3 separate regions of the Homo sapiens genome follow, and all the other regions are reported to be linked to region 2. The links are microRNA targets in miRTarBase. Many come from high-throughput screens and were not tested one by one. Region 2 holds a microRNA gene; each other region holds the end of a gene's coding sequence.
The links. The annotated mature microRNA hsa-miR-4283 reads UGGGGCUCAGCGAGUUU and lies in region 2 at 984-1,000, opposite strand. An mRNA with a match to its seed (bases 2 to 7 or 8) in the 3' UTR can be bound and repressed. Matches are read on the target gene's strand: a 7mer-m8 pairs with bases 2 to 8, a 7mer-A1 pairs with bases 2 to 7 and ends in A, and an 8mer does both.

Region 1 (3,000 bases), not on the chromosome of region 2:
TATACTACACATTTTCTGAGGAGAAGTTGCATGTAATTCTTATCTTTGTTTTTTTATAGGTAAGGTGTTTTTTCCTTCTGGCTTCTTTTATGATTTTTCCCTTTACTTGTGATTTTCTGTAGTTTAAAAATTATAAGCTTAGGTGTAGATTTTTGCGTTTTTTTGTGCGTGTGTTTATTCTTTTCGGTGTTCTCTGAGCTCTCTGGATCTGTGGTTTGGTATCTGACATTCATTTGGGGGAATTCTCAATTATTATTGTTTCAGATATTTCTTTTATTTCTTTCTCTCTTTCTTCTCCTTCTGGAATTTCCATTATGCATATGTTACACCTTTTGTAACTGTCCCACATTTCATGGATATTCTCTTATATTTTTTTCAGTCTTCTCTTAGCTTTTCAGTTTTGGTGGTTTTTATAGCTATAGTCTCAAGCTCAGAGATTCTTTCCTCAGCCATGTCCAGTCCACCAATAAGCCCATCAAAGGCATTCCTCATTTCTGTGACACCATTTTTTATCTCTAGCATTTTTTTTACTCTAAGGATTTCCATCTCTCTGTTCATTTGTTCTTGCGCACAGACTACTTTATCCATTAGAGCCCTTATCATTTTAGTTGTTTTAAATTTCCAGTTTGATAATCCTAACATCCCTGTCATATCTGAGACTGGTTTTAACGTTTTCTCTGTTTCTTCAACCTGTTTTTGCCTTTTACTATGTCTTTTTTTTACAACTGGACGCGATGTACTGAGTAAAAGAAATTGATGTAAATAGGCTTTTAGTAATGTGGTGGTAAGGTTTAGGGAGAAGGGAAGCGTTCCATGGTCTTATGGTTAGGTCTCAGTCTTCCAGTGAGACTGTGCCTCTGGATTGTGACTCTCACCTGTGCTTCTCATCCTCTCTGTCCCCTTTAATGGGACGGGATGGCTAGAGTAGGCAGGAGTTGGGTGTTTCCCTTCCTTCAGGTCGGTTAGTCTCTGATAAAACCTCATCCGGTTAGGTTTTTGGTATCTAGTTTCTCCCGAGGGAAGACTTTGTTAAGAGGAATAGAATGCTCTGCTGCATTTCAAAATGGTTCCTTTCTCCCGCCCCCTGCGGGAAACACTAGGGGATTTTTCTCCAGTATTTCCTGTGAGAACATGGTTGAGCTCCTAGAAGTAAGACTCCCAGAAACAAGGGGCCTCCCAATGACTGGGTCTCCCTAGAGTTTTTATTTCTCAGACTGGTCCATGCTGAGCATCCAGTAATTCCTCGGTTATTGTCCGGGTTCTCTACCGTGGTTCTGATTCCTGGGGGAGTTTATGCTTTGGGGTTTTTGCTCTAACAAGTCATAAATCTTTGCATTTGCCTATTTCTCTAATTTGAGGAGAAGTGGTTTGCCCTGTGACCCACTTCTCTGATGGGTCTAGAACGGTTACTAATTTTTCAGTCTGTTCAGGTTTTTACTTGTTGTTTGGGTGGAGTGGCCGCTTCTAGCTCCTAACATGCCAGACCAGCAACTGAAACCATCTGAAACTTCTTGAAGTGCATATGACATATTGATGCCTTCTGCTATTTACCTCTTTTGTGACTAAATACATACATATGATTCATATACCCTGAGATGTAGGTAGTAGGTAAGAGAGAAACAAGAGTGATTAGATTCCTAAAACCACAGAGAATTAGAATTAAAACAGTTAGAATTGTAAATATCTTTGTGTGTCTGAGCAAGTACCACTGAAATTTTGGAGTATTAACTAAGAAAACAATTAGACTAGAAAATGTAGAAAATGGTACCAAGATATCCAAAATAAAGGAATCTCTAAGCAAGATTTATTTACTTAATTCAATAAAGATTTTAATTTATACTATCTGGGGAAAATACCATTATCCCTTATGCCATTTTCTTTGTGGTTGTAGCAGATAGGTGGTTAAAACTACAGAAAGATTAATTTTCATTAGTTTAAATAATAAATTACTGGCCAAACTATTTAAAGGTATAAGAGATATCTCTGAAAAAATTAATACTGAAAAACTCATATCTGGAGGAAAGAAATTTTAGCTGCAATAAATAACAATGTGAAATTCATTTCCTGCTTTGAGGAGGGGAGGGAGAGCTACCTTCATCAGACCACAGTTGCAGAAGGGAGCTCAGACCCTAAATGAGCATAGCTGTGAGGTACATTGAGGAGTCTGCTCTGAGTTCAATGATGTGGGCTGATTAGAACATAGCTGAAAGCAGGTGTTGGGATATTGATTTCCATGGCTGGTCCTCACCTGTTACAAAACTTCTACTACAATGAGTTTCAAACTTCAATATGCAATCAATTATCTAACCTAAAGATCTTGGTAAAACTGTGATTCATTAGGTCTGGGGTGGGGGCTGACAGTCCACATTTCTAACAAAATCCCAGGGGATGCTGATGCTCCTTGTATCTGTACACTACAGTTTGAATATTAAAGTTCTACACAATGTCTCCTGGAACAGCAGTTCTCAGACTGTGATTACCAGACCAGCAGCAATAGCATCACCTGAGAACTTCTTAGAAATGCAAATTCTTTGGTTCTATCCAGGCCAATTCAATCAGACACTCTGGGAGCTGGGATCTGGTCATTTGTATTTTAACAAGCCCTCCAGGTGATTGTGATGCCTGCCAAAGCCTGGGCATCATTGATCTAGAGAGGTATTTTCCAGCCATAATAGAATTACCTGGAAGCTTAAAATAATTAGTCATTGGTTTCCAATTAAATCAGAATTACAGAATGTGGGACCCTTTATTATGGGTTTAAAAAAAAAAAACCTTCCTCATTTGATTACAATGTGCAGCCAGGTTTGAGAACTGCCTGAGAGAGGCCCACTTACTTCACGAGTCTTTGCCAGCAAAAGTCTGGTGGTGGTGGGGGTGCCTGGGTCTGCTGGGCCAGCGACTCTGACTCTGCTCCTCCTCACTGTTGCTTTGCACCTGTAACCAAGATCCCACAGAACTCAGCCAGAGCCAAGGGGGAAAGGGGGTAAGGAAAGGTGCAGG
Region 2 (3,344 bases):
CCAGCCTGGGAGACAAAGCAAGACCCCATCTCTTTAAAATAAAACATAATAAAATGTGTGGGGGGAGGAGAGGCCGGGCACAGTGGCTCAGCCTGTAATCCCAGCGCTTTGGGAGGCCAAGGCAGGTGGATCACCTGAGGTCGGGAGTTCCAGACCAGTCTAGCCCATAATATGGTGAAACCCCGCCTCTACTAAAAATACAAAAATCAGCAGGGTGTGGTGGCGGGTGCCTGTAATCCCAGCTACTTGGGAGCATGAGGCAGGAGAGTCACTTGAACCCGGGAGGCAGAGGTTGCTGTGAGCCGAGATCATACCTCTTTACTCCAGCCTGAGTGGCAGAGCAAGACTCCGTCTCAAAAAAAAAAAAAAAAGTTGGGGGAAGGAGAGAAAAATAGAGAGCCCAGTGGGGCAACCCCCCACCCAGCCCTTGCCACCTGCCACTGCTCCAGCCGGGCTGTTCCAGGCCAGGAAGCTATGCCATCTGCTTCTGGCAGAGATCAAACTTAATTCGTTCCCAGCTTGTTAACTTAAAGCCCATTAGAATCTTTCCCGTCAATCCGTACACGCAGTGGAGATCAGACAGAGATGGGGTGAAGGGCCCTGCTCAGGACACGGTTCCCTGGGGAGGCAGAAGGAGAGGGGGCTGGCTGGCTGGGCTTTCAGGGGACGAGAGCCTCCCACCTCCTTAGTCTCCCTGGGTGCAGGGAGTGGCTTTCATAGAAGTCAGCTCCTCTCATTCGCACAGGGACCTGGGTACCAGTGAACCACCTTTTGCAGACCAGGGAGCCAGCTGGTGAGTGGTGAGGCAGGGGTCCCACTGAGGAATGGTGGGTCTGATAGCATGACACCAGACATCATCATGGTGACACATTACTGCATTTCTGCTCTCAGCAATTCCAAGACAGGGTCAGGACTGGGCCACCTTATGGTGGGCCCAAGGACCAAGGCTGGCAAGCCTGACCATGGACAGAAACACCCCTTGCAAACTCGCTGAGCCCCAGGATCAGAGTCCCTGGGCCGTTCTGTGTCAGCCCCATGTCTGCCTTTGCCGGGACAGGACACCACCTGCTTCCCCTGCATTCAGGCACCATGGAGTCAAACTTGCAAGAGAAAACGAGACCCACGGCCAGGCGTGGTGGCTCATGCTTGTAATCTCAGGACTTTGGGAGGCCGAGGTGGGTGGATCACCTGAGGTCAGGAGTTTGAGACCAGCCTGGCCAACGTGGCGAAACCCCATCCCTACCAAAAATACAAAAATTAGCCAGGCATGGTGGTGCGTGCCTGTAATCCCAGGTACTTGGGAGGCTGAGGCAGGAGAATCGCTTGTACACAGGAGGCGGAGGTTGCAGTGAGCCGAGATCATGCCACTGCACTTCAGCCCAGGTGATGGAGCAAGACTCCGTCTCCAAAAAAAAGAAAGAAAAAAAGAAAACGAGACCCAACCATCTGGGCCAAACAAGCAAATTCAATCAACAAATTAAGCCCCATGATCCTCTCTGGAGAGGGCAAGGCAGCCTGTGTGCGCTGAACGGCAGGGCTCTGCAGGAACAGGGAGGGGCTGGCGCTCACCGCACCAGCTATGCGCCAGGCTCTGGGCTAAGAGTGTCCTCTGCTCAGAACCTCACAGTGACTACAGGAGGGGAGACATCCCAGACAGATGGGAAGCCCAGGCTCAGAGAGGTAGAGGAGCTCACCCAAGTCACACAGTGAGGCCAGGCAGATTCTGGTTCCTCCCCAGGCCCCGGTCCCTCCCCAGCCCGCGGTCCCATCAGCCCTGCCCGGTTAAGCTGCCCCACTGGACGCCCCCACTCTCATTCCAGGCCCCTCTTCCTGAAGACCAGAGAGGTGCGCCCCAGGCCAGGCTTCTGGGACTGGGGCCCCAAGCCATAGGTGGCCTCCTGGAGCTTCATCCCCCAGGACACCCCAGGCCGGAGAGGTGCGGTAAAGTCTTTCTGGGACTGTGGGCAGCAGCTGGAGGCAGGCCCAGGACAGGAGGAGCCTCCTGGCCCAGCTCCAGGAGCTGTCGGCTAGAAGGAGCACTTCATTATCAGCTGGGCTGCTGTGAAGGAGGTTATGGGGAAGGGAGGCCCAAGGGACCCGAGGTCAGCCTGGAGTCCCCTTTCCAGCCGGCTCCAAACCCCTCCATGCAGCTGGGCACCCCAGGCCCTGCCTGAGCCTATGAGGTGCCTCCCCACCCAACCCCCACTGGAAGCACCAGCCATACCCAATCATGCCCATGCATCTGTAAGGTGTAAGGACTAGTGTTGCCTCCTCCAGGAAGCCTTCCCTGACTGCTGCATGGTAGGAGTGACTCTGAGCACCCTGAGCACACATCATCTCATGGAATCCTCCCTGTGACCTCTGTGGGAGGCTCAAGGGAATGAGGCCCAGAGAAGTGAAGGCAGCTGCCCAAGGCCACCCGGTGTGGAAGCTTGAATCAGCTCCTCTCTGGGCCTCGTGACAGGGCTGGGTACTGAGGAGGACCTGATAAGTGTTGTTGAAAGAATTCTGTCAAAAGGGCTGGGTGAAGGGACTACTGTTGGGGACGGAGGGGCAGGGATGCTGCCCAGGGTGCAGCCGCCACCCTGTTGACCCCAGATGAAGGCAGGAAGGATGGCTAGATTCCCACAGATTCATCCAGTCCCTGAGCACCTACATAATAGCTCCTGTTTTACGCCTTTGGCATTAACGTGCCCATTTCACAGATGAGAAAACTGATGCCAGAGGGCCTGAGGCCAGTGCAAGATTCCCAGCCGGGCTCCAAGGGAGCACAGAGCCAAGACCTGAACCAGGTCTGCCTGGGCCCCGAGCCACTGTCCTTCCCACGACCCCAGGTCAGCCAAGGATCCTGGCCTTACCTGGGCCTTACCTAGTTCTTACCTGGGACTTTCCTATGCTCCTTCTAAGGCCTCTCCCCGTGGCATCAGCGTCTGCCCGGCATACACACTACTCGGAGGAGCCTTTGTACTCTCTATTTACAAGAGGAGGCTGTGAGCAAATTAGCAGGGTAACCAGGGAAAATGTTTGGCGTCCGTGGGTGAGAGTTGGAGCCATCTGTTGCCAAGTGCTGGGAAAACACCGGAGCACTCCCTGGAGCCGTGGTGCCCGGCAGAGCTCCAGGAAGTGGGACCAGGCACCTGCAGGCTGTGTGTCCTGGGGCAGGGTGCTCACCCTCTCTGGGCCTCAGTGTCTGGATCCGTAAAACCTGCGGGTCTGTCCAGCCTCGTGATTCCAGGATGCTCCCTGTCTCCTTTCCCCTCCTGCCCCTCTGCTCCTGGGCTCCGTACATCCTTTCTGTGCCCCCACCCTGAGACCAAGCCCTTCCTGGGAAGGAAGGCTGGCGG
Region 3 (3,344 bases), not on the chromosome of region 2:
ACTACAGGCATAAGTCATGCCCAGCTTCTTTGAAGACTTTCGTTCTCAGTGTGACATTACGGAGGATGCACAGGAGCCTCCAGGAGGGCATACCAGTGTGACTACTCCCCACCCACTCGCCCTCCACAACACAGACAAGAAGTCCAAGCTCATAGTAATGTAAAACCATTTGTTTAATTCTAAATCAAATCACTTTCACAACAGTGAAAATTAGTGACTGGTTAAGGTGTGCCACTGTACATATCATCATTTTCTGACTGGGGTCAGGACCTGGTCCTAGTCCACAAGGGTGGCAGGAGGAGGGTGGAGGCTAAGAACACAGAAAACACACAAAAGAAAGGAAAGCTGCCTTGGCAGAAGGATGAGGTGGTGAGCTTGCCGAGGGATGGTGGGAAGGGGGCTCCCTGTTGGGGCCGAGCCAGGAGTCCCAAGTCAGCTCTCCTGCCTTACTTAGCTCCTGGCAGAGGGTGAGTGGGGACCTACGAGGTTCAAAATCAAATGGCATTTGGCCAGCCTGGCTTTACTAACAGGTTCCCAGAGTGCCTCTGTTGGCTGAGCTCTCCTGGGCTCACTCCATTTCATTGAAGAGTCCAAATGATTCATTTTCCTACCCACAACTTTTCATTATTCTTCTGGAAACCCATTTCTGTTGAGTCCATCTGACTTAAGTCCTCTCTCCCTCCACTAGTTGGGGCCACTGCACTGAGGGGGGTCCCACCAATTCTCTCTAGAGAAGAGACACTCCAGAGGCCCCTGCAACTTTGCGGATTTCCAGAAGGTGATAAAAAGAGCACTCTTGAGTGGGTGCCCAGGAATGTTTAAAATCTATCAGGCACACTATAAAGCTGGTGGTTTCTTCCTACCAAGTGGATTCGGCATATGAACCACCTACTCAATACTTTATATTTTGTCTGTTTAAACACTGAACTCTGGTGTTGACAGGTACAAAGGAGAAGAGATGGGGACTGTGAAGAGGGGAGGGCTTCCCTCATCTTCCTCAAGATCTTTGTTTCCATAAACTATGCAGTCATAATTGAGAAAAAGCAATAGATGGGGCTTCCTACCATTTGTTGGTTATTGCTGGGGTTAGCCAGGAGCAGTGTGGATGGCAAAGTAGGAGAGAGGCCCAGAGGAAAGCCCATCTCCCTCCAGCTTTGGGGTCTCCAGAAAGAGGCTGGATTTCTGGGATGAAGCCTAGAAGGCAGAGCAAGAACTGTTCCACCAGGTGAACAGTCCTACCTGCTTGGTACCATAGTCCCTCAATAAGATTCAGAGGAAGAAGCTTATGAAACTGAAAATCAAATCAAGGTATTGGGAAGAATAATTTCCCCTCGATTCCACAGGAGGGAAGACCACACAATATCATTGTGCTGGGGCTCCCCAAGGCCCTGCCACCTGGCTTTACAAATCATCAGGGGTTGCCTGCTTGGCAGTCACATGCTTCCCTGGTTTTAGCACACATACAAGGAGTTTTCAGGGAACTCTATCAAGCCATACCAAAATCAGGGTCACATGTGGGTTTCCCCTTTCCTTGCCTCTTCATAAAAGACAACTTGGCTTCTGAGGATGGTGGTCTTTTGCATGCAGTTGGGCTGACCTGACAAAGCCCCCAGTTTCCTGTGGCAGGTTCTGGGAGAGGATGCATTCAAGCTTCTGCAGCCTAGGGGACAGGGCTGCTTGTTCAGTTATTACTGCCTCGGAGCTCCAAATCCCACCAAAGTCCTGACTCCAGGTCTTTCCTAATGCACAGTAGTCAGTCTCAGCTTCGGCAGTATTCTCGGCTGTATGTTCTCTGGCAGAGAGAGGCAGATGAACATAGTTTTAGGGAGAAAGCTGATGGGAAACCTGTGAGTTAAGCCACATGTCTCACCAGGAATAATTTATGCCAGGAAACCAGGAAGTCATTCAAGTTGTTCTCTGAGGCCAAAGACACTGAGCACAGCCCAGAGCCAATAAAAGATCTTTGAGTCTCTGGTGAATTCACGAAGTGACCCCAGCTTTAGCTACTGCAATTATGATTTTTATGGGACAGCAATTTCTTGCATCTCTACAGAGGAAGAAGAGGGGGAGTGGGAGGGGAAGGAAAGAGAACAGAGCGGCACTGGGATTTGAAAGGGGAACCTCTCTATCTGAGGAGCCCCCACTGGCTTCAGAAGCAACTTACCAAGGGGTATTTAAAGACATGAAAATTTCCAGAAATACCATTTGGTGCATCCCTTTGTTTCTGTAATATTAAACTCAGGTGAAATTATACTCTGACAGTTTCTCTCTTTCTGCCTCTTCCCTCTGCAGAGTCAGGACCTGCAGAACTGGCTGAAACAAGATTTCATGGTGTCACCCATGAGAGATGACTCAATGCCAAGGCCTGAAGTTATAGAGTGTTTACAGCGGTGGCGATATTCAGGGGTCATCGCCAACTGGTCTCGAGTTCCAAAGCTCTGATGAAGAAACAAGACTCCTTGATGTGTTACTGATCCCACTGATTCCAGGAGTCAAGATTAGCCAGGAAGCCAAACACCAGGAGTTGGGGTGGCACGTCACCAGTCCAGAGCCCTGCCACGGATGTAGGCAGGAGCCCAGCATTAGGCAATCAGGAGCCAGAACATGATCACCAGGGCCACAAATAGGAAGAGGCGTGACAGGAACTGCTCGTCCACATACTGGGGTGTCCCAGGGACAGCTGGAGAGACAGAAAGGAGAAAACAGGCTATTAGAACACTGCAGCTATGCACACTGCCCACTCAGGCCAGAAGTTGACAGCATCAATCTTTATCTCTTTACAACATCAGAATCCTACACACAAAAAGATTTCTTTTTTTTTTTTTTGAAATGTAGTCTCGCTCTGTTGCCCAGGCTAGAGTGCAGTGGCACGATCTCAGCTCACTGCAACCTCCGCTTCCCAGGTTCAAGCGATTCTCCTGCCTCAGCCTCCTAAGTAGCTGGGATTACAGGTGTGCGCCACCAAGCCTGGCTAATTTTTGTATTTTTAGTAGAGACGGGGTTTCACCATGTTGGTCAGGCTGGTCTCGAACTCCTGACCTTGTGATCCGCCTGCCTCAGCCTCCAAAAGTGCTGGGATTACAGGCATGAGCCACCATGCCTGGCCTTTTTTTTTTTTTTTCTTTTTGAGGTGGAGTTTTGCTCTTGTTGCCCAGGCTGGAGTGCAATGGCACGATCTCGGCTCACTGCAACCTCCACCTCCTAGGTTCAAGCGATTCTGCTGCCTCAGCCTCCTGAGTAGCTGGGATTACAGGCACGCACCACCACACCCGGCTAATTTTTTTTTTGTATTTTTAGTAGGAACAGGGTTTCACCATGTTAGCCAGGCTGGTCTCAAACTCCTG

Region 1: the mRNA of TESPA1 is a reported target of hsa-miR-4283. The part of its 3' UTR that is shown has no 7-base or 8-base seed match.
Region 3: miRTarBase lists RNF185 as a target of hsa-miR-4283. Seed matches in the 3' UTR shown: 8mer at 1,372-1,379, 7mer-A1 at 1,052-1,058 and 7mer-m8 at 397-403.

The regions. Positions count from the first base shown.
Region 1 is chr12:54,958,334-54,961,333 of GRCh38, forward strand. TESPA1 (thymocyte expressed, positive selection associated 1) reads right to left here. Exons shown (of 11, transcript NM_001136030.3): 10 at 2,835-2,934. The coding sequence ends at 2,836. Among named protein-coding and RNA genes, the nearest start is that of TESPA1, 25 kb to the right of the region's middle. RefSeq lists an enhancer at 988-1,037.
Region 2 is chr7:63,618,756-63,622,099 of GRCh38, reverse strand. It overlaps MIR4283-2 (microRNA 4283-2), which reads right to left and starts at 1,010; the gene lies at 931-1,010.
Region 3 is chr22:31,203,825-31,207,168 of GRCh38, reverse strand. RNF185 (ring finger protein 185) reads right to left here. Exons shown (of 7, transcript NM_152267.4): 7 at 150-2,680. The coding sequence ends at 2,583. Among named protein-coding and RNA genes, the nearest start is that of LIMK2, 6.8 kb to the left of the region's middle.